7 linked regions of the Homo sapiens genome follow. The protein of the gene in region 3 interacts with the protein of the main gene of each other region in a biochemical or structural test. Each region holds a gene or a part of one and is shown on either strand. Other genes may lie near its edges.

Region 1 (3,500 bases), on a different chromosome or scaffold from region 3:
ATGGTAACCCCTGGGCCCCTTGGGAACTGGCGGGTCAGGTGTATAAATCCCACTTGTTCTGGGACAAAGCAGAAAGCAGAAGGGCAGGGCAGCAGCTGCTGGGGAAAAGCCAAGAGAAAAAGATCACATTTTAATGAAGTGACTATCAAAAAGACTAACAGTAAGGATTAACATGCCTCTAGATACTCTCCCTGTAACCCAAAGGGTTTTCTTCCTCACTAGCTTACCAAATTTTACCAAAAGGAGTGTCTCAGGAAAAAAAAAGATTAGATGATTTTTAAAAGAGCTTTCGAGCTTCTCTAAACCTTGGATTGTTCTTTTGTAAAAGGAGGGATCAAGTGATTTCTTCCAGCTCTGAGAGACTGACACCAAACCAAGGGCCTCTCCTTTTTCAGGTTAAGGCACAGACACAGGTATCTCAGAAAGTTTCCTTCTTGCTGTTATTCTCTTCTTCCCTTCTTTGGTTTATTTGGAAAAATTTGTGAGGGGTAAATGTATGTGTGTTTGAAACCTGAATCTGTCACTGTTTGCCTCTGTGTCCTTGGGCAAATTATTTGACCTCTCTGAGCTTGTCTCCTAATCTTTAAAAAGAGGATAATACCACCTGCTTTACAGGATTACCAAGTGGATTAATAGAAATAATGTAATAGATGTGAAAATATCTCCCATGGTGCCAGGCACTTAGTTGGACCGATTTGTGACTAACTTCTCTTCCTTCCTGCGTGTGTATCTAGGAAGTTGGCTGGGGAAAAGGTTAAGCTGAATACAGAAACTTCTAAAATCTGAAGGGAAGGTTTTCAAAACAAACTCAGCAAACTTTTTTCTATGTGCCCATGTACAAGGCACAGAGTAGGCCAGGAATTACTGGGGCCCTTGGTGTGTACTCATGGGGTGTGAAGGACATGGATATACACAGAAATAACATGTCAGAGAGGGACAAACCAGGTGCTACAGGCAAGGCAAACTCAGTACATTAACAAAATACACTGCAGTGACAAATGAGACAGATGGTTCTTATGTCTTTCAGGCCACCCAGACTGCAACTTCCAACCAGAAGTTCACTCAACTGTGAATGAGTAGGCATTTTCTTATCTATGGAGGGCCTATAAAAATATCTTTATCAGAGAACTGGTTAACCAATTGATATATTCTCATACAGCAGTTCTCTGCCAGTTGTCAATGATAGAGGAAAAAAACTACTTTATGCCAGACAATGTCCTAAGCACTACGCAAGTATGAGCTAACTGAATACAAAGATCCCATGAGATCAGGACTAGTCTTAAAGAACTATTATTGTTCTCATTTTACGGAAGAGGAAACTGAAATACTCAGCTAATAAATGTTTGAGCTGGGATTAGACCACAGGTCTAGTCTCCAAAGCCTGTCTTTTTTTTTTTTTCTGAGACGGAGTCTCGCTCTGTCACCCAGGCTGGAGTGCGGTGGTGCAACCTCGGCTCACTGCAACCTCTGCCTCCCAGGTTCAAGCAATTCTCTGCCTCAGCCTCCCGAGTAGCTGGGATTACAGGCACCTGCCCCCATGCCCGGCTAATTTTTGTATTTTAGTAGAGATGGGGTTTCACCATCTTGGCCAGACTGGTTTGAACTCCTGACCTTGTGATCCACCCACCTCAGCCTCCCAAAGTGCTGGGATTACAGGCGTGAGCCACTGCACCTGGCTCAAAGCCTGTCTTTAACTACATTTTAGACTTTCTTTCCTGGACAAAACAAATTACAGGCAGAAAGACATGATAAAAAAGAATCCCAGAAAGAATGTTCAAGGAACACTTTAATGAAACCAGGCATTGGTTTCATGTTCTAGTTACTATTCAATGTAAATTAATAGGTAAAATAGTCTAATTCTTTCTACTATATAAAAATAGATAAAGGATGAGAAAGAAGGTAGACTTGTAAGAGACTGCTACAGTTTCAGGTCCTCTCATTGAAATGAGATGTGTGTGATGGTGGGCCCTATCAGACCCGCTCAAGGTTACACTAACAAGAAGGCAGCCCTGTTCTGGGAATCAGCTCAGCCTCCAGAAGATGCAGAAAATCCACCATGAATGTGGAAAGCCTAATACAGCCCCTTGATCATGACGGATTTTTATTTAGTTTTGAAATCTTGTGGTCATTTTGGACCCTACCCTGCTCCATCACATATCCAGGACCATCCAAGTCACCCTGGCCTGCCTATGTCAGGAGGCATCTTTTATTGGTTGGTGCCTTCTTCATTGCTACCACTAAGACCTCATCTCAGGGCCCACTATACCCACCTCCAGATTGGTGGCCCTGTGCCCACATCATGAGTCTTCCTTTCTCTAAACCTACGGTGCCTACTGTAGACTAGAAACTTCCAAAATCCTCAGCCTGGCATTAAACCCTCTAGTCCGGTTGCACCCACATTCTCAGCTGTACCTTCCACTTCCTATGAATCTTCCACCTCCCAATCCTTGCCTCTACCACACGTATTTGCTACCCTTTATGAAGACCTGAAACTTGCCTACTTTTGTCTCCTACTCCCAAAGTTTCTTCCCTACTAAGATATCATCTTCCCCACCTTCTTTAAGCCTATTTAAGATTTCTCAAGTCTTACCCACTTCAAGAAGTATTCCCTAACCAAAACTGATGGCCACCCTGGATACCCTGCTATTCTTTAAACATGCCAAACACATTCCCTGACAACTCACTTCTTCTATCCCCTTACCCTACTTCACTTCTCTTCAATGGATTTATCCCTGAATATGATGTTCATACATTTACTTGCTGTCTATCTCTCCCCACCAGAACATACACTACATGAGGGAAGGGATTTGGTCTATCTTGTTCCTTGCTGTATCCCTAGGGGCCAAAAGAGTTTAGCACATAGCAGGAACTCAATATATATTTGTGGAATAAATGTTTGAAGAGAATTCTCCCTCATCTTTGAAATTCTATAATGTTATCATACGCAAGCCTTATAACAGCTTGTCTTATCAATTTTTTTCTTTTTTTTAAGAGATGGGGATCTTGCTATGTAGCCCAGGCTGGAGTGCGGTGGCTTTTCACAGGCGCAATCCCACTACTGATCAGCATGGCAGTTTTGTTTTTTGCCTTAATTACCTTAACTAGACAGTAAGTTTCTCAGAGGCACAAACTATATATAACTCATTTCCACAAATACTTATTAAGGGCTTACCATGTGCCAGACCCTGTACGTCTTAAGCAGCCTGGAATACTGGAAAGAACACTGCAGAAGTCTTACCTTGGTTCTGGCTCTACCACTAGTTGAGTGACCCTGGACAACTCCGTTTTTTTTCCCTGAGCCTCAGTTTCTTCATAGGTAAAACAAGGAGACTATACATTATCTCAAAACTCTCTCCTGGCTCTAACACCTGTTAAAATTTATAAGAGGTAAAACTTGGTCCTGCCCAGTGCCACAGACATCACAGGCACTCAGTAAATATTTGATTTGTTATCGATTCTCCGGTTACACGAGGAATCTGAGGTGTCTCAGAACATGGTTT
Region 2 (3,500 bases), on a different chromosome or scaffold from region 3:
TCGGCACTGACTAATTGGTGAAAAGGACCTGAGAATTATCTCCTGCATCTTGGCCCCTTTGCTTTGAGGACCCTGAGCTCTCTCAGTGATGTGTCACTCAGCTGTCTCTTTGGGATGCTCAGGCTTGGGGAAGACTCCTCTCCACAACTGCCCCACACCTGGCCAAGCCGTATGTGCACCTGAGTCAAAAGCAGTGGTGAGGATCCCTAGAGGACCAGACTCTGCTGGGAAACCACCCAGGATCTCCCTGTGGCCAGTAGTGCCTGGAGCACCATGCCCAGTGGTCTACTCTGGATACCTTGGTGCCGCAGGAAGGATGTGTTTGGTGAGCCTTCAGTTGCTGAGAGAGAGATTTCCGGAGGTTCTTCTCTTTGATGACCTGCAGGAGGGAGGGGGGAAGAAAGGGTTCCAGGCCCCACTCCTTCCTAAAAGCAGAAGAAAAGTAAGAGATTAGTGAGAGAGGCAAAGTGGGACAGAGAGAAGATGGTAAGACAGAAATTGACTGAATCTGAGAGGTAGAGATGGAGGAATAGAGACTGGGAGAAAGAAAAAGGGACAGGGATAGGAAAATAACATTAGCCACAGCTCCCTAGTAGAAGCTGTAGCTCTAGGGCTTCATAGTCTAGATATGAGGGACTCCAATTCTCACTCCCATCCCATGTCCTACATTTCTGAAAAGCATAGCATAGCTCAACCAGTGTACCTTTTCCCTACGCAACTATTCGCCCCCCATCCCAACGGGCCGCAGCACAACTCACTCCACATTCTTGAGCGAGATCTTCTGACTAGGTCGAGTGGCTGAGACAGTGATATAGATGTGGAGCGCAGCAAGGCCCAAAAGCATCTCTGGCTTGGGATCCATTCCAAAGCGTTCTCGAATAACATCATTCCGACTCTGTGAGAGAGGGCAGTCCAAACCTATCAGCTGAAGGAGACATTCCTTCCCCACCCCCTGATCTACTCCCTTACATCCCAGACAATACTCATAGTATCAGTAAGGCATGCTAGATCAAGGGACAGAGGAAGGAGCTCCCCTTGGAGAAGAGACAACAGAGGAGGCTCAGGTCTCATAGACACTGTTCACTTTATTCAGCAGATACTAGATAGCCTTCTCAGTGACAGGGGCACACAATGGCAAGGTACAAGCAGACAGTCCAGTTCACTGCAAAAGTGAGACATGGCACCACTCCCTTTCTTTCCTCCTTTTATAAGAGACTTTCCTACTTTTTTTCATGGGGGTTATACTCACCCCCAAGCCATACAAGGCTCCTTTACTAGCTCAGATGGAAACAAGGGGAGAAAGATACTGGGAGGGACTCTCCACAGGGCCCTGGCCCAGAAGCCCAGGGTGAGAGCTGAATTGCAGGGATGGGGGAGGCATTCTTCTTCTTGGTGTCTGAAGGACAAAAATGTTGATGAGTCAATCTTCCCTATGCTATCCTAGAGGAGGTCTCCAGGAACTACTGGCCAAGGGTATGACAACCCCCAAACCCTGAGGGTCACAGCCCCAGCTATCAATGAGTCAGCCTTGGTTAGACCAGTTTCCCATTTTGTTAAAGTGGAACCAGTATGGACTAAGGGACTAGGAAGCCACAGTGATATCACTATAATATAGGAGAGAGTGGAAAAGGAATACATCATCAATGATCATCTATGTAGAAAATTCAGTGGATTCTATTACAAAAAACTACTACAACTACAGTTTTCCCTTGGTATCCATGGAGGATTTCTTCCAGGACCCCCATGGATACTGAAATTTGTGGATGCTTAAGTCCTTTATATAAAATGCTGTGGTATTTGCATGTAACCTATGCAAATCCTCCTGTATACCTCTATCACCTCTAGATTACTTATAATGCCTAATACAATTAAAATGCTATATAAGGCCAGGTGCAATGGCTCATGCCTGTAATCACAGCACTTTGGGAGGCGGAGACTGGTGGATTACCTGAGATCAGGAGTTCAAGACCAGCCTGGACAACATGGTGAAACCCCGTCTCTACTAAAAATACAAAAATTAGCTGGGCATGGTGGCGGGCGCCTGTAATCCCAGCTACTTGAGAGGCTGAGGCAGGAGAATCACTTGAACTCAGGAGGTGGAGGTTCCAATGAGCCGAGAGCGAAACTCCATCTCAAAAAAAAAAAAAAATTGCTATAGTGCTATGTAGGCCAGATGCTGTGGCTCATGCCTAAAGTCACAGCACTTTGGGAGGTTGAGGCAGGTGAATCACTTGAGGTCAGGAGTTTGAGACCAGCCTGGCCAACATGGTGAAACCCTGTCTCTATTAAGAAATACAAAAATTAGCTGGGCGTGGTGGTGCATGTCTATAGTCCCAGCTACTTGGGAAGCTGAGGCAGGAGAATTGTTTGAACCTGGGAGGTGGAGGTTGCAGTGAGCCGAGATCATGGCACTGCACTCTAGCCTGGGTGACAGAGCGAGACTCTGTCTCAAACTAAACTAAAATAAAAATGCTATGCAAATAGTTATTATATTATATTTTTAAATTTTGTATTTTTTATTATTGCACTGTTATTTTTTATTGTTTTTGAATATTTTCAAAATCCACAAATATGGAACCTGTAGATATGAAGGGCCAAATGTAGTGAGTTTACCAAGGTTTCAGGATATAAGATCAATACACAAAAATCAATTGTATTTCTATTCTTTTAAAAATAAATCTTTTTGTATAGAGATGGGGGTCTCACTATGTTGCCCAGGCTGGTCTTGAACTCCTGAGCTCAAGTGATCTTCCTGCTTCAGTCTCCCAAAGTGCTGCAATTACAGACGTGAGCCAACATGCCCAACCCCAACTCTATTTGTATATGCTAGCAAGAAATAATTGAAAATTGGAATTAAAATCAAAATCATTTACAATAGCATCAAAAAATATGAAATAATTAGGGACAAATCTGACAAAACATATGAAAGACCTATATACTGAAAACTACAAAATACTGCTGAGGAAAATTATAGAAGGTATAATTAAATGTAGAAATACTGTGTTCAGGGATTGGAAGGCTCAATATTGTTAGGATGTCAATTGTCCCCAAATTGATCTATAGTTTCAACACAATCCTAATCCAAATCACAGCAGGTTTTGGTAGAAATTATCATGGTGATTCTAAAATTCACATGAAAATGCAAAGGACCTATAATAGCCAAACCAACTTTGAAAAAGAACAAAGTTGGAGAACAAATACTTCCTGATTTCAAGAATTATTATAAAGCTCCAGTAATCAAGAGTGTGATGTTGACATAACGACAGACAAGTAGACCAACAGATCAGAATAGAGAGTACAGGAATAGATCTATATATATATATATATATATATATATATATATATATATATATAGACAACAGATTTTTAACAAAAGTACAAAGGCAATTCAGTGGAGGAAGGATACTCTTCTCAACAAAAGGTGCTATAACAATTGGATATCCATATGCAAAAAAAAACACACACACACACACACACACACACACACGAAACTTTGATGG
Region 3 (3,500 bases):
CCTGCCCCCCGAGGCCCATCGGGTCTTGCCTGTCGGGGGCTTTGCTCACTGTGGCCCCTCAGGCAGTCCTGCCCAGTGGCTCCCACATCCAGTAGGTGGGGAAGGAGTGGTACGGCCCGCTGAGGGCCCCATGAGGGCCGGGTTCTAAGGGGAATCTGCCTTCACCGTCTGGTCAGCCCCGTGTCCTCTGCACCAAACATCTGGGGCTGAATCTGAGGACGGAGCCCGCAGTAGCTGCTGTTCTTCCACACTTTGTGTCACCCCCAAAGCTCTTAAAAACAGGCATTTTCAACTTTCCCATTCAGGCTTAAAGAAACCCTTTCCCAACAAAGAACTCAAACCCTTGGACTTTGGCATGACAGCTCAGCAGGCGGTGAGCCTGCAGGTTCCCCGATCCACCAGAAAGGAGGAAGCTGCCAGTGCGTCCCTGGCTCCCGCTCCTTCCCTCTGCCCTAGCCCTGCACAGTCCAGAAGGGGACCCTGGCTCTGTCCCTCCCCAGGGCTGGCTCCCAGAGCCAGATAGGGGGTCCCGGCTGGGATGGTCCAGCACAAAGCCCTCGGGGATGCACTCAAAGGCCGCCCTCCAGGGACCAGGAGCTTGGCACAGGTCACCTGGTCTTTCCCTAAGGCAGAGCCTTCCATGGGGAGACATGGGGAGATTTCTCGGCCCCCCACTCCTCACCCCAGAGTCCATGGGGAGATTTCTCGGTCTCCCACCCCAGAGTCCATGCCATCAGCCTGGAGTCTCTGTCACAGCCCTAACCACCCCCAGCACAGCAGCACAAACGGCCAGGCCCATTCCCAGGATGTGCCGCTCCCCATTTGTGGAATTCCCACAGCCCCTCCTGCTCTGCCCGCCCCTCCCTCCTTCCTTTCAGGCCCCTGTGGACGGTGCACACACGGGAACCCCTTGGGCACCCTGGCTGCTCTCCTGACTCCACCTGGACACGGCCCCAGGCTCCATCTCAATTCTTCCTAGACTGACGACACGACACTTTGGAAATGGACTTGACACACAGCCAGCCCCAAGGGAAGGCTGGCAGTCGGATAGAACAGGGAGCCCAGAGCTCAGGCTTGTAAGGGCACTCGCCAATGTGAGGGAGCAACCCAGAGCTGAACATGGTCATCACACGGCCAGAGTGCAAGGACCACCTGCTGCTCCTGCTTATCCTCCACAGGGTCCCCTGCTCCTCAGACACACACACACATCCCGCTGCTCCTGAAACACCCACACATTACCGCCTGCCACTCACAAACCCATGCACAACCCCTGCCACTCACACACCCACACACTCCCCCTGCCCCTCACACACACACACACTCCCCCTGCCCCTCACACACACACACTCCCCCTGCCCCTCACACACACACACACTCCCCCTGCCCCTCACACACACACACTCCCCCTGCCCCTCACACACACACACTCTCCCCCTGCCCCTCACACACACACACTCTCCCCCTGCCCCTCACACACACACACTCCCCCTGCCCCTCACACACACACACACACTCCCCCTGCCCCTCACACACACACACTCCCCCTGCCCCTCACACACACACACTCCCCCTGCCCCCTCACACACACACACTCCCCCTGCCCCTCACACACACACACACTCTCCCCCTAACCCTCATCCACACTTTTTGCCTCGGGCACTTCGCTCTGGCTATCCCTTCCCTGGACATGCTTCCCCCTAACCCACAGGGCTGGCTGCCCCCTCTGCCCCAGGGATGGCTTCCTGACTGTCTTTGGTCCTTGGTGCCCAGGAGTGCTGCCCCATGGGATATTTGGGTCTCATTTGAAGTGGGATCCCCACTGCCTACAGGGCGTGATGGGCACTGAATGTTTATTGAATGAATATTAAACTGGAGAGAGCTCCTCCATTGCCCAGAGCGCTGGCTGCTGCAAAGTCCAGCATTTTGGGCTACCTCGATAAGACGGATGAGACCATTCAAGCTCCTAAAAGTGGTTGGTATGCTAAGGGTATTGGCTGCCTGTGACCCGAGTTCTATTCTGTGTCCCAGGAGGGTGCCAGGTTGGGCAGTTCCAGCACCAAGTCAGGGCCTGCCCAGGGTGTGTCTGCATCTTCCGAGGTCTGGCAACATCAGGATGGGGCTGGGTTTGTCTGTCTTATTCCAGAAGGCATATAGCTAAGGCATAGCTAAGATTTCAGCTGACAGTGGAGCATGTTTTAGGCCAGGTGAGCGTGGTTTCTCTCTGGGCACATGACCCACTCCTGAGAGAGCTCTGTGTGGGGCAGATGGTGCTCACCATGCTGAGCCCAGATCTGCCAAAGTGCTCTGAGCCGATGCTGCAATTGCTTGTCAATGATCCCACTTTGCAGGTTAAGTCTGCCACTCCTTGGCAGGCGGCGCCTCTAAAGCCATTGTCATCCAGAAGTAGGTGTGCTGCTCACTGGAGGCTCTGCAGTAATTTAAGGAAATAATTCAGCCGAGGAGCTGAGACAGCCTCTTCCTGGGCCCAGTGTCCAGATGGTTTTGGATGAAGCTTACACATGGGAAGCCAATGTTTATCCCTCCACTCCTTCACTCTCCCATGTGTGCATTCATCCATCCATTTGTCCATCCACTCATTCGTTCATTCCTCCTTCACCCACCTGTGGGTGCATCCATCCATCCACTCATCCATCCATCCATCCATCCACATATCTACCCATCCTTCCGCCCATCCCTCCATTTACTCATCCATTCACCCATCCACTCACTCATCCATCCATCAATCCACTCATCCATCCACCAACCATTCACGCATCAGCCATCCATCCATCTGTCCATTCACTCACTCACTCATTCATCCATCCATTCACTCATCCACCTATCCACTCATCCATATATCCATTCATTCACTCATCCATCCATGAGTTCACTCACCCACCCATCCATCAATCCACTCATCCATCCATCCATTCACTTATCCATATATCCATTCATTCATCCATCCATCCATCAATCCACCCATCCAACTATTCACTCATCCATTCATCCAAGCCATCTATCCATCCACTCATCCATCCATCAGTCCACTCATCCATCCAGCTATCCATTCACTCATCCATCCATCAATCCACTCATCCATCCATTCACCCATCCATCCATTCACCCATCCACCTATCCATCCATCCACTCACTCACCCATCTATCAATCCACTCATCCATCTATCCATTCACTCATTCATATATCCATTCATTCATCCATCTATCCATCCATCCATCCATCCACCCATCCATCCATTCACCCAAGCCATCCAGCCATCCACCCATCCATCCATTCACCCATCCATCCATCCATCCACCCATCCATCCACTCGTCCATTCACCGAAACCATCCATCCATCCAAACCATCCATCCATCCATCCATCCATCCACTCATCCACCCATCTGACCATTCACTCATCCATCCATCCATCCACTTATCCATCCATCCACCCATCATCCATCCATCCATCCATTCACTCCATTCATCCATTCGCTCATC
Region 4 (3,500 bases), on a different chromosome or scaffold from region 3:
ACCCCAGCTGGTTCTGACCCTTGATTCCAGAACTCTCTGACAGGTCTCATAGCAATTCTGTCAGGAGTTTTAGAATCTTATTATCACTCTAGAATCAGACTTCTCTGCTCCGTGATTCCAGAACATCTTAATCACAATCGCGTCAGGCAGCTCTTCCTGTGGTTCTAGAATCTCCTTCAGTAGTTCACACCTTTGGCTACACCAGGGATTCTAAGAATTACCTGACCAGTCAAGGAACAAACAATTCTGTTCCAGGAGAATTCTAGACAGTTCCAGAATACTCCCAACCCAGCCCAGAACTACATAAAGCTTTACTCCTGGCTGGGTGCGGTGGCTCACGTCTGTAACCCCAGCACTTTAGGAGGCCGGGGGGGGGGGGTGGATCACCTGAGGTCAGGAGTTCGAGACCTGCCTGGCCAACATGGCGAAACCCCGTCTCTACTAAAAATACAAAATTAGCTGGGCGTGGTGGCGCGTGCCTATAATCCCAGCTACTTGAAAGCTGAGGCGGGAGAATCACTTGAACCCAGGAGGTGGAGGTTGCAGTGAGCCGAGAGAGATCGCACCACTGCACACCAGCCTGGGTGACAGAGCAAGATTCCATCTCCAAAAACAAAAAGGAAAAAAAAAAAAAAGCTTTACTCTCATGGTTCTAGAATTCCCTGAGCTACCCAGAGCCAGACAGCTCTGCCAGTGGCCCTAGAACATTCTAACCAGTAACTACGGCTCTTTGGTTTAGAACCACGGGTGTAGGGCCCCGTTCTGGACACCACTAAGTGAAATTCACCCTACACCACAGTCGGTTCTGCCCACTATCCTTCAGGATCTAAGCATTCTGGAACAAGAGCTCCACTCTGGGGTTCTAGAGAGATACGTCATTCACTGTGGTAGCCACCAGGCACATGTATCTATCACAGACTTGAAATGTGGCTCGACTGAATAGAGATGTAAATAGAAAATACACACTAGATATTGAAGATTTGGTATGAAAAAAAGTAATTTAAGGTCAGGCATGGTGGTTCACGCCTGTAATCCCAGCACTTTGGGAGGCAGAGGCGGGCGGATCACCTGAGGTCAGGAGTTTGAGACCAGCCTGGCCAACATGGTGAAACCCCGTCTCTACTAAAAATACCAAAATTAGCTGGGCATGGTGGCAGGCGCCTGTAATCCCAGCTACTCGGGAGGCTAAGGAAGGAGAATCACTTGAACCCAGGAGGCAGAGGTTGCAGTGAGCCAAGATTGCGCCATTGCACTCCAGCCTGGGCAACAAGGTGAGACTGTGTCTCAAAAAAATAAAAAAGTAAATTAAAAATATTGATTGTATGTTGAAATAATATTTTAAATATGTTAGCTTAATTAAAATGTTATTAAAGTTAATTTCTTAGCCAGGTATGGTGGCGTATGCCTATAGTTCCAGTTACTCAGGAGGCTGAGGCGAGAGAATCGCTTGAAGCTGGGAGGCGGAGGTTGCGGTGAGCTGAGATCGTGCCACTGCACTGCAGCCTGGGCGACAGAGCGAGACTCCGTCTCAGTTTAAAAAAAAAAAAAGTTATTTCACCTGTTTTTAATTTTTTAACGTGGATAACTACAAAATTTTAAATCACATATGGCTCACGTTGTATTTCTATTGTAGTTCCATCTAGAACTTTCTGATTACACTATAATTGGACAGCTCTGCCCAGGGTTATAGAACACTAGATAACTATTCCCTCCATGGTTCTAGAATTCTCCAGTCTGAGTAGAACCAGATGCCTCTGTTCACCAATTCTGAGCATTCTCATCAGCCCAGATTCCTTTACCCTAGAAACAGACAAAATGCCAAGCCCTGGAACTCCCTAGGTGTCACAGCTCTGCTCGATTCTAGAACCTTCTTAGAGCTATAGGTTCAAACCAGTTTTTCTCTCTGCAACCACAGAACTGTTTTTTTTTTTCTTTTTTTTGAGACATGGTCTCACTGTCACCCAGGCTGGAGTGCAGTGGCACAATCTTAGCTCACTGCAGCCTCAAGTGATCCTCCCACCTCAGCCTCCCAAGTAGCTGGGATTATAGACCCATGCCACGTGCCTGGCTAATTTTGGGGGGGGATTTTATTTTTGTGGAGACAGGGTTTTGCTGTGTGGCCCAGGCTGGTCTCGAACTCCTGGGCTCAAGCGATCCTCCCACATCAGCCTTTCAAAGTGTTGGGATTACAGATGTGAGCCACCCTTCCCGGCCAGAACTTACTATCTGACCTATATCCTTAGCGAAGTGTAGAACAGAGGCTGGCCGCGGTGGCTCACACCTGTAATCCCAGCATTTTGGGAGGCCGAGGCGGGTGGATCACAAGGTCAGGAGTTTGAGACCAGCCTGACCAAGACGGTGAAACGCCGTCTCTACTAAAAATATAAAAATTAGCTGGGCACGGTGGCGGACGCTTGTAATCTCAGCTACTCAGGAGGCTGAAGCAGGAGAATCACTTGAATCCGGGCGGCAGAGGTTGAAGTGAGCTGAGATTGCACCACTGAAAAAAAAAGTCTAGAACATTCCAGAGGGCCAGAAATTGTTCTTCCCATGCTTTTAGGGCAGGGCTTGGCAAACATTTTCTGTAAAGGGCCAAAGAGTAAATATTTTCAGCCTTGTAGGTCACAAGGTATCTGCTGCAGCTACTCACCTCTGCCATTCGAACATCAGAGCAGCCATGGACAACACATGAATAACCAAGCATGATGTGTACCAATAAAACTTTATTTATGTACACTGAAATTTGTTTTTCTTTTTTTAGAGACAGAGTCTCACTCTATTGCCCAGGCTGGAGTGCAATGGCGTGATCTCAGCTCACCGCAACCTCCGCCTCCCGGGTTCATGTGATTCTCCTGCCTCAGCCTCCTGAGTAGCTGGGATTACAGGCGTGCACTACCATGCCCGGCTAATTTTTGTATGTTTAGTAGAGACGGGGTTTCACCAATGTTGGCCAGGCTGGTCTCGAACTCCTGACCTAGTGATCTGCCCACCTTGGCCTCCCAAAGTGCTGGGATTATAGGCGTGAGCCACCGCGCCCAGCTTATGCACACTGAAATTTGAATTGCATTTTTTTATTTTTGAGACAGAGTCTCGCTCTGTTGCCTAGGCTGTAGTGCAGTGGCGTGGGGTGATCTCAGCTCACCGCAGTCTCGACCTCCTGGGCTCAAGAACTTCTCCCGCCTCAACCTCCTGAGTAGCTGGGACTACAGGCATGCACCGCCACACCTGGCTAACTTTAAACATTTTTTGTAGAGATGGGGTCTTGCTACGTTGCCCAGGCTGGTCTCCAACTCCCGGCTCAAGCGATCCTCCTGCCTCAGCCTCCCAAAGAGCTGGGATTACACGTGTGAGCCACCATATCCAGCCTAGCATATCATTTTCACATGTCAAGAAATAGTATTCTTTGGCCAGGCGTGGTGGCTCACGCTTGTAATCCTAGCACTTTAGGAGGCCAAGGCGGGCGGATCACAAGGTCAGGAGTTCAACACCAGCCTGGCCAA
Region 5 (3,500 bases), on a different chromosome or scaffold from region 3:
GGTCAGGAGATCGAGACCATCCTTGCCAACATGGAGAAACCCCGTCTCTACTAAAAATACAAAAAATTAGCCAGGCATGGTGGCAGGCACCTGTAATCCCAGCTACTCGGGAGGCTGAGGCAGGAGAATTGCTTGAACCCAGGAGGTGGAGTTCGCAGTGAGCTGACATCGTGCCACTGCACTCCAGCCTGGCGACAGAGCAAGACTCCGTCTCAAACAAACAAACAAAAAAACAAAGACAGAACTGGGATCTGGACTCAGTTCTGTGCACTATCCTCTGCGGCTTCTCTCTCTCCTCTTTTTAAAATTCACTCTCCATAGAAATTGTCAAAAATTGCCAATGCTGACTCTATGGCAAGTCTTCACGATGGGGTACTGAGCAAAGTTTTCAATTAGCAATAATGGCGCCTCAGATAAACCTTATTGGCTGCTACAGTGCCACCACTGAGCAAAGCTGCTTGCCCTCTCTTAACAAAGGGTATGAACTTCTTCCCCTCCAGAAACCAGGGGACAGAGCTTTAGACCAGGGACAGGGGCTGATGAGTACGTACTGCTGGCGTAGTCAGGGGGAGCGTACATGTCGTTGAGGTGGAGGCTGCCTGGCTTGGCCACCTTCAAATACACCATATCAGATGTGTTCTTCAGTGAGGCCACAGCTTCCTCGTGCCTCACATCCTGCAGATTGGTGTTGTTCACCTAGAAGAGGAGAGGCCTCAGGCTGGGACTTGGAAGAAGGAGAGGCTTCTCCAGGGAACTCGAGGGATGCCTTTTCAGTGAAATTCAACAGCATGCTAACAAAGGCCCAAGTATAGTGCTGTGAGGAGCAGAGGCAGGAGGTAGGGGATAGGGCAAGACCCTGGCCACAGAAAGAATTAGGGCCTTTGTATCTGGGCAAACACAACACAGATGATAACTCTTGAAATTCCCCCATGATGCCTCATCCCTGAGTGAGGTTTAGGCGGAGTAAGGGGTACTGGAGCTCCTCCTCCCTACCCTACCATTTGGGCATCCCCATGAAGTCTGTCTCACCGCCAGCAGCCGGTCCCCAATCTGTAGGCGTCCATCCTTCTGAGCAGCACCCCCCTCAATGATCTTGGTGATGTAGATGCTGTTGTCTCCTGGGATGTGCTGGTTGCCAATACCCCCAGCAATGCTGAAACCCAGGCCTGAGCGGGAGCCAGCAGGAGGTGGGAGAGGGCCACAAGGAGAGGTTAAAGTGTTGTCGATCCCAAATCCAAACCCCCTCCCCCAGCCAACCCACTGGCCCCACAGGAGCTCCCCCCGGGGGATCCAAACGCTAAGCTGCCATCCTGAGATGAGTAAGGGTGAGGCCTGAGGTCAAAAAAGTAGGCTGTGAGTTGGAACAGGGGGAGTCAGGCAAGGAGTAAGGCCATTCCCTTCCAATTCCCTATGGGGCAAGATGGGATCTGGGGCCTAAGGCTCTGGCTGGAGCACAGGAACCTGGAGGGCCGCACCTTTGGGCCCTTTGAGCAGGTTGACCTCCATGATGGTCTCGGGTGGAGGCTGTCGCCTCCGCACCACCAATCGCACCACAGGGCCTGCCTCCTTCAGCGCCTCCACCGCCCGGCTGTGTACCACCTCCGACACGTCCACCTCATTCACCCGCAGCACACAGTCATTCACCCTGTGGGGGAAGCCCGAGAGGCATGACACTGTGCCCCTACCCCTCCACCCCCTCTCCTGCTTCCTCCCACTTCTCTGTCCTCCCCTCCTCTGCCCTCCCACCCCGCCCTCAGATCTAATGGAAGGGTCATCCTGCCAGGCAGGCTTTCCTCCCCTCATCTCGATCCTGTCCCTGCCACCCACAACCCTGCTTCCAGGCCATCTCACCCCAGCCTCCCATCCATGGCAGCTGCTCCACCAGGGATAATCTTGGTAATAAAGATGCCAGGGTCATCAGGGACATGGGGATTGTCGATGCCACCTGCGATACTGAAGCCCAGGCCAGAGTTGCCCTGCAGAAGTGGGTGGAAAGGCACAGTCTGTTCACTCTGAGGGCACAAAGGAGAGTTCTGGGTACCTCATCTCCCCTTATATCCCAGAGCTAGTTCTCCAGGCCTCAGAAGGGGCCATGGCAGGCTGGGCACATTTGTCAGACACCCAGCCTCTGCTGATCATTTTGGGAAACCCATCCCCTCCCCAATTCCCCAGGCCTCAGTGAGCAAGGTCAATTAATATTTGTTAGTGGGTTGATTGATTGATGCAGTGAAGCAGCCTCTGAGGGCCGCTGTTTCACCATCCTCTAAATGCAGGTCCCCCCATGGGTCTTGAAACCATGATTCAGGGGTCTCCCTTATCCTGGCTCCAACCCTCTCCTTCCCTTTCCGCTTTTCCCCACTGGCAGACTCACCCTCTCAAGTACGATTTCCTCATATTTGAACATGCCATCACTGCCATTCACCTAGGGGGAGACACAGGCAGTTCCCTTAGTGCCCCCTGCCCTTCCAGCCATCTGCCCCTTAGTCAACCTGCCTCCTCCCCTACTCCCACAGAGTAGAAGAGCCCAAGTGCACCCCAGGTCACCTCTTGGCCACAGATGAGGACAGGCTGACCTGGAAGAGGCCGCTCCTCACTCACCCCACCAATCCCTGCTTTGCTTCCAACCATATCAGCCCAAACCAAGCTGCTCATTTAGCCCAGATCAATTGTCTGAGACTGAGCCAGCCAGTGGTGCACTCACCGAGAGGCTGTGCTTCAGTGTCTCAGGGTTCACTAGGAGGGGTGCAGGCCTGGCCTAAGGGGGATGGCAGAGATGGAGCATGGCAGGCAAACCATGCCACACCCAGTGTCCATAGGGGATACCCAGTGGCCTAGACAGATAACCCTTCCCCTTCTGAACCACAGTTCTCCCTGACTGGGGGATCATAGACTCCCACTGTGTCCGAACTGGAAGGACAGCAGACATCATCTTGTCCTATCCCCTTTATGTGACAGTAGGTGACACGGAGGCCCAGAGAAGACATGGGATGTGCCTAAGGGCACACTGGGAATTAGTGACAGAGCAATAGGATATCCAGGTGTTCTTTTGATTACAGTAAGCTCTTAAGGCCACTGATGTTTTGGTCACTCATCCCCGTACCCCAGCAGAGCTCATGGGAAAAAGGACAGTTGCCCCACTTTGGAGCACCTCGTGAGTCTTCACTCTATACCTCTTTCTTGGACTCCAGGAACCCAATTCCTCAAATAGGCAGAAGGAGTCAAAGTCCTAATCCATTTTCTACCAAAGGATTTTTGATTCTGAGCCCTTTGTTTTTCCCAGCAGAAAGGGCGAGGGTGGGATCTGGTCAGGAGTCAGAGACAAAGCCACGGGTGGGACTGGAGCAGGGTAGACAAGATTCCCCATGAGGGAGAAGTTGGTGACCCACAGGCTGATTGGCAGCAGAGTCCATGGTTTTCAATATGTAGTAGCCATGCAAGAAGAGGCAAGGGAAGGGGTCAGAAACACAGGGGTGATTTGGCCAACCCACAGAGATGGCCTC
Region 6 (2,625 bases), on a different chromosome or scaffold from region 3:
GGCCCCCCAGCTTCCCAGCCCGGACACCGCCAGCTCCTGAACTTTCATGCCCTCAAAGCCCAGCCTCTGCCAGGGTCCCACCCCTGTTTACAGAGCTACCCGGCCTTGAAAGGGACACTGGGGACCCAGGCAGGGCGCCACAGGGTACAAAGCTTGACCTGTGACTGCTAGAGGTCGCAGGGTGAATTGGGCAAAGGGTGGCCCGTGTGGGTGTTGTGTGGGGCCGGATGGCTTCACAGGGAAGGTGAAGGTGGGAGGCTGAGTCTGCCAAATAAGAGAGATGGGCATGGGCCCAGGATGTGCCACACAGCAGGGGGTCCCATGGGGGTCAGCGGGGGAGATGGAGCAGGGCTGGGAGCAGATGGATGCAGGGCACGGGCTCAGGAACGAGACCGTTTCCAGCTGCTGAGACTCGGGGAGGGGGCTCCCTGAAACAGCCTCATCCCTCCACCCCTCTCACCCCACGGGGAGGAGGCTCAGAAAAGACAGAGGCGTGTGGGTCCCAGGCAGGGCCTGTTTATCCTGAGAGCGCGCATGCGCTATGGCTTACGAGGCAACAGCGGTGCCGGTCGATCGGTGGTCGGTTCGGGGGTGCGGGGCCCGGGAGGGAAGTGCAAAGTCAACAGGGTGTCCACGGGGGAGCCCGCCAAGCAGGGCTGAGCCAGAGGCCAGGCGTCCTTCCCGGGTGCCGCTCTCACACACCTACGTTCCCCAGGCCTGGGAGCTGCCGCGCGGAATGAGGGGCCTGTCCAGAGGCCGCCCTCCTCGGGGACGTGGGGCCTCCATCCTCAGGCCCCTCGGAGAGCCCAGGCCCCCAGCAGGGCACAGGCGCACAGGGTAGCTGGGTGGGGAGCAGGGTGTGGCCTAGGGACCCCCACACCAGGGCAGGTGGGCAGGGGCAGCTCCTACGGCCACATCAGGCCTCCCTGGCCTTACCCAAGGTCCCCACGAAGAGGCTGGGCGCCCCAACTTGGCCACTGGGAAGTCCCAGGGACTCCCACTCAGGACGGCCGCTGCTGAGGGGAGGGGGCGGGGAGGAAATGGTTTGCAGAGAAAGGTTTGTTTTATTGCAATTATTTAGAGCGCGTCCCAAGGGGGAGGGGAAGGGGGAGGGGAAGGGGGGGGGTCTCTGGTATTAAGTGGAAACATGTGTGGAGCTGGAGATCTTTTTGGAAAAAAAGCAAAAACACAAATTCCTTTCAGTCAGCAGGCCCCGGCAGAGCAGCAAAGGCCCTCGCCCCGCGGCTGCCGCGCGCTCGCTCGCTCTCTCTCTGTCTCTCTCTGTGTCTCTCTCTCTCTCTCTCTGTCTCTGTCTCTGACTCTCTCTCACATCTCTGGGTCTCTCTCCCCCTATCTTGCTGCCACAGGCCCCCAGTACCTGGTGGGCAGGGGCAGGATGGGGGCTCACCGGGGCTGGGGCTGATTTCTGGGCAATGGCAGGACCACCCTCCAGTCCACTGAGGCTGGGGGAGCTCGGGGCAGGCTGAGGCCCAAGGTCCGTGCGGGAGGGGTCCCAGGGTCCCGAGACAGGCAGGAAGGGGCTCAGAAGTTGCTGAAGATTTCACGCTTCCTGTTCCAGTCCATCTGTGGCGCGCGCTTGTTGACTCGCATGGCTCGAGCCTTCTCCTTGGCCTCGGCCGCCGTGGGGCTCAGGTGGAGGCCGCTCTCCTGGAAGGGATCTTGCTTCCAGGCACTGCCATCCTGGGGTGAGCACGGTGGGTGGGGTGTCTGGAGTGAGCCCTAGTCCCACACCCCAGACGGTGGCCCCTCCTAGGGAGCAACCAACAGAGGCTGCCTGCTGGGGCTGGGGCTCACGAGGACTTCCTGAACAGAGACCCCACTGCCCGGGCTGACATCTCCACAGACGCCTACCCCAAGGCCTCTAGCAACCCCACGTGTGAGCTCAGGAGTGGAGAACATCCATACCTCAGTGTCCTTGTCGGAACCAGGCAGGTCACTTCGGGACGAGCACGCAGAGCCACCATTGAGCTGGGAAACCAAGGGCAGATTGTGGTTTCACAGACACACACAACACCTGCACACGCACACATGTGCACAGAGGCACACCCCCCCCCAGTGTGTGCTCCTCCACTCGGCAGGGGGCCTCGGGCCTCTGGTGGACTCCAGATGCGGCGGGGCAGGCACCGGGCGCCTGGCAGTGACAGGCAGGTGGCCTGGCCGGCTCATGGTGCAGAGGGGGTTCAGGTGCAGGAATGGCCGGCGTGAGCAACGCCTGGGGTGAGGCCACCGCCAGCTCCCTGAGGAGGCAGAGACTGGAGGGCAACTCCTTACCAGGTGGTGCCCAGGAGAGGACAGAAGGCAGTGGCCCCGACCCCAGGGGCCCCACGTGGCTTGTGTGTGGCACGACCCAGGATGAGACCCACAGGGGCATTAAAGGGAGGTGACAGGGCTAAAATCGGGTGTCACTAGCACACCTCGAGGACGGATCTCCAGGGAGAAGGGGGCCTCTGTCGGGCCTGGGTACCCCCAGAGGCACCCTGTGTCTCATGGGCACCCCACCCTCTTACCTGGGCAGGGCTGGTTCCATTGGTGACGGGTGACGGCAGAGGACCTGTGGGGACAGCGTGTCAGTGGCTGCTCAGCCACCACACCGCACCCACCCTG
Region 7 (2,921 bases), on a different chromosome or scaffold from region 3:
CTCCTCAGGCAAGCAGGTCTCGGGCCCTGGGCTGAGCAGCCCAGAAAGGCACATCGCGCAGCTCTGCTTCTGAGCGTTGCCCTCCCTCCCCCGCCGGGATCTGTGTGGCCGATGTAGGTTTCCGCTGCTCCTGCTCCCGGCAGGGGCTTCCTCCATCAGCCATTCCCCGGCGTTCCTCAACCAGAAACCCACCCCGAGGCCCCTCGCAACTGCAAGCCTTGTTTATCAGCGACTCATGTTCCGCGTGGGCTCAGAGCTGCTGGAAACAGGCACCATAACCTCGGCAGGGCTGAAAGGATTCCAACGCCCCGGCCGCCTCCTGCCTCTTCCCCGTTCTCCCGCCCGCTCCTCCACGGGTGGATTTCCTCACAGGTGTGGGGCTGCTGGCCGTGGGGGCGGCCGCTTCAAAGCATCTACTTGGGAACACTGGCTTTTCCTTTCTTTGAAGCCATCAAAGGGAGGCTGGTGTCCGCCTGGCCCCTCCTCCTCCTGAGCCAGACCCCTGCCCCCACCAGTCCAGGGAAAACAGGCCTCCCAGCTCCCAGCCGACCCTGCAGTGCACAAAATACCAGTGTCCCGATGTGGCTCCTGGAGACCTCATCCGAAGAACAGGAACTAGAGACCCCTCCACCCACCCGCCCACCCACAGGCTGCAAGGATGGTCGCCACGCACTCAGCCTCACAGAGCCACCAGGGGGAGCACCACAGACGGCCCGGCCTGCTGCTGCTGTCCCCAGACCCAAATTCCCTGCCCGGTCCCCAGCGGGCCCCTCTGTAGGCCGGGCTCCTCAGCTCTCAGCCTCCCGCCTCGTGCGGCCACCACGCTTCCCAGAGAGCCTGCAGCCCCTTTGTGCTGAACACCCCTTCACACACCCCTACACACACACAGACACACCCACTCACACTCTCCTCACACCCCATGCCTCACACCCACTCACAGACCCACAGCCACAGCCGTGCACACATACACACTCATGCTTGACACCCCATGCTCACACACACCCACAGCCACACACCCCTGCACACACCCACACTCGCACTCCTACACACCCCATGCTCTCACACACACACGTACATCCGCATACACTCACCCACACACACACACTCCTCCACACGCACACTCAGGTACATTCACACAGCCACACACCCACACCCATCCACTCATGCACCCCTATACACCCACGTGCACGCACACACTCATTTCCCACACCTACCCACACTTACCCACACTCATACATCACATCCCACACACACCCATGCTCTCACACATCCACATGCACACACCCACACTCGCTCACACTACACACACACACACACGCACACCCGCTGCGCACTGGCCAGGCCTCCCCCGGTGTATGTGCCACCTCCCCAGCACCATCCCCCCTCCCAATGATCCTGCCTCCTTGTGAGCTCTGGAGGAAAACCTGCACCTCCCCCACACCATCCTCACACTGCCGTGGAAGCGATGCCAGAAAGAACTGGACTGTGGGGGGTTCAGCCAGTGAAGTGGGACAGGGCAAGCAGCCTGGCTGTGGGAGGGGATGGCCAGCAAGGGCAGAGAGGCAAGCCTGCCAGGGTGGCCAGAGCTGTGTGCCCTGCAGAGCTTCTGAACTGGACATACAGGTCCAGTCCCAAAAGTAGTGTCCAGGGAGCACCCCCAGCAGCCTGTGCCCTCCCGGTTGCTCAGTTAGAGCCAGACCGGGATGGCTCCGCATCACCTGCCGCTCCATTCACCCTTGTCACAGCAGCCCCGATGGGAGACACAGCCTGGCTGACCTTCAGATGCCCTGTGTCCTCTGGAGCGGGGGAGGCTCATGGAGGGCAGGCGGGAGCACGTGGGAACCGGCATGCAGAGGCACACTCAAAGTCCCTCCTTACCTCTCCGACCGAGTTGGACAGAGCTTGGACTATCTTCTCGTGGGCTGTGGCCACCACGCTCTGCCCGTTGATCTCGATGATGCGGTGGCCCACACGGACGCCCCCTCGCTCAGCAATGCCCCCTCTCATGAGGCTGCAGATCTAAGCAGACATGGCCAGGTCAGCACACGTGTTCCCGCCACACCCGACAGGCGCTCCACCACGTCCCCAAAGATGGGACATGCAGAGGGAAAAGCGCCACATGATGAATACGTGCACGTGCAATTCGCTGACTCACAGACAGAGATCCTTATGATATGCAGTATGTTTCTTTAAAACAAGAGAGTTAATGCCATGGTGTGTGGGGAACCACCAAGTTTTCTGACTCCCACGGTGGAACCTGTCCCCCAGCTGCACCTCCCCCAGGGCCGCTCCCTTTGTGGTCAGGCTAGAGACTGGTGACACAGCCCAAGGCCACTGCCACCTGGCCTCCTACGGCACAGCCTGGTTACCATCCTGGAAGACAGGCACTTAGCTGATGGGCGGGCGGGAAAGGAGAGGCAGCCTGTCCCCTGGCCACCAGAAAGGTGGGGCATCTGTTCTGTCAAGGGAAGGCTCTGTTTGCCGGATGCCCAAATGGTCTACATCGACAGGGAAGAGTCACTTTATTCCTACATCCCCCCCCCGCCAAGTGACGTAAGGGCATTTTGTGCCAAATATACTGGTTCTGGTTTTGTTGGAGACAGGGTCTCATTCTGTCACCCAGGCTGGAGTGCAGCGGTGGGGGCTTCCATTCCAGCCTAAAAGTGACGCCAAACAGATGGACAGGAGGGCCTGGGAGCGCCTGTGACCACGAGACTGGACAGAATGGAAAACAGGCGCCGTGCACACCCGTGTTCACAGCAGCAGTGTTCACAACAGCCGAGGGTGACAGCACGGACTAGCGGAGAAACAGAATGTGCTCTAGGCCTGCAGGGAAACAGTACTCAGCCCTGGAGAGGAGGGAGAGTCTGAAGTGTGCTACAACACGGACAGACCTCGGGGACACTATGCTGCATGAAACA

What was found.
Region 1: the proteins of SLC9A3 (region 3) and LIMK2 interact in a test that uses a peptide from one of them, tested with the Homo sapiens proteins (one large-scale study listed by IntAct).
Region 2: the proteins of SLC9A3 (region 3) and FRMPD3 interact in a test that uses a peptide from one of them, tested with the Homo sapiens proteins (one large-scale study listed by IntAct).
Region 4: the proteins of SLC9A3 (region 3) and APBA3 interact in a test that uses a peptide from one of them, tested with the Homo sapiens proteins (one large-scale study listed by IntAct).
Region 5: the proteins of SLC9A3 (region 3) and DLG3 interact in a test that uses a peptide from one of them, tested with the Homo sapiens proteins (one large-scale study listed by IntAct).
Region 6: the proteins of SLC9A3 (region 3) and NHERF2 form a complex in vitro, tested with the Homo sapiens proteins (2 studies listed by BioGRID and IntAct, with this or other methods).
Region 7: the proteins of SLC9A3 (region 3) and APBA2 interact in a test that uses a peptide from one of them, tested with the Homo sapiens proteins (one large-scale study listed by IntAct).

Annotation. Positions count from the first base shown.
Region 1 is NC_000022.11:31,215,298-31,218,797, reverse strand, and holds part of LIMK2 (LIM domain kinase 2), read right to left. Parts: intron 1-3,500. UniProt on the Homo sapiens protein: Serine/threonine-protein kinase that plays an essential role in the regulation of actin filament dynamics. Acts downstream of several Rho family GTPase signal transduction pathways.
Region 2 is NC_000023.11:107,557,652-107,561,151, reverse strand, and holds part of FRMPD3 (FERM and PDZ domain-containing protein 3), read right to left. Parts: intron 896-3,500; coding exon 759-895; intron 426-758; coding exon 299-425; intron 1-298.
Region 3 is NC_000005.10:514,450-517,949, forward strand, and holds part of SLC9A3 (sodium/hydrogen exchanger 3 isoform 1 precursor), read right to left. Parts: intron 1-3,500. UniProt on the Homo sapiens protein: Plasma membrane Na(+)/H(+) antiporter. Exchanges intracellular H(+) ions for extracellular Na(+) in 1:1 stoichiometry, playing a key role in salt and fluid absorption and pH homeostasis.
Region 4 is NC_000019.10:3,755,193-3,758,692, forward strand, and holds part of APBA3 (amyloid-beta A4 precursor protein-binding family A member 3), read right to left. Parts: intron 1-3,500. UniProt on the Homo sapiens protein: May modulate processing of the amyloid-beta precursor protein (APP) and hence formation of APP-beta. May enhance the activity of HIF1A in macrophages by inhibiting the activity of HIF1AN.
Region 5 is NC_000023.11:70,447,835-70,451,334, reverse strand, and holds part of DLG3 (disks large homolog 3), read right to left. Parts: intron 2,423-3,500; coding exon 2,372-2,422; intron 1,977-2,371; coding exon 1,852-1,976; intron 1,646-1,851; coding exon 1,476-1,645; intron 1,167-1,475; coding exon 1,030-1,166; intron 697-1,029; coding exon 552-696; intron 1-551. UniProt on the Homo sapiens protein: Required for learning most likely through its role in synaptic plasticity following NMDA receptor signaling.
Region 6 is NC_000016.10:2,036,902-2,039,526, reverse strand, and holds the end of NHERF2 (Na(+)/H(+) exchange regulatory cofactor NHE-RF2), read right to left. Parts: intron 2,573-2,625; coding exon 2,529-2,572; intron 1,990-2,528; coding exon 1,927-1,989; intron 1,771-1,926; coding exon of another isoform or gene 1,741-1,770; exon of another isoform or gene 1,702-1,740; coding exon 1,543-1,701; 3' UTR 501-1,542; downstream 1-500.
Region 7 is NC_000015.10:29,112,974-29,115,894, reverse strand, and holds part of APBA2 (amyloid-beta A4 precursor protein-binding family A member 2), read right to left. Parts: intron 2,020-2,921; coding exon 1,879-2,019; intron 1-1,878. UniProt on the Homo sapiens protein: Putative function in synaptic vesicle exocytosis by binding to STXBP1, an essential component of the synaptic vesicle exocytotic machinery. May modulate processing of the amyloid-beta precursor protein (APP) and hence formation of APP-beta.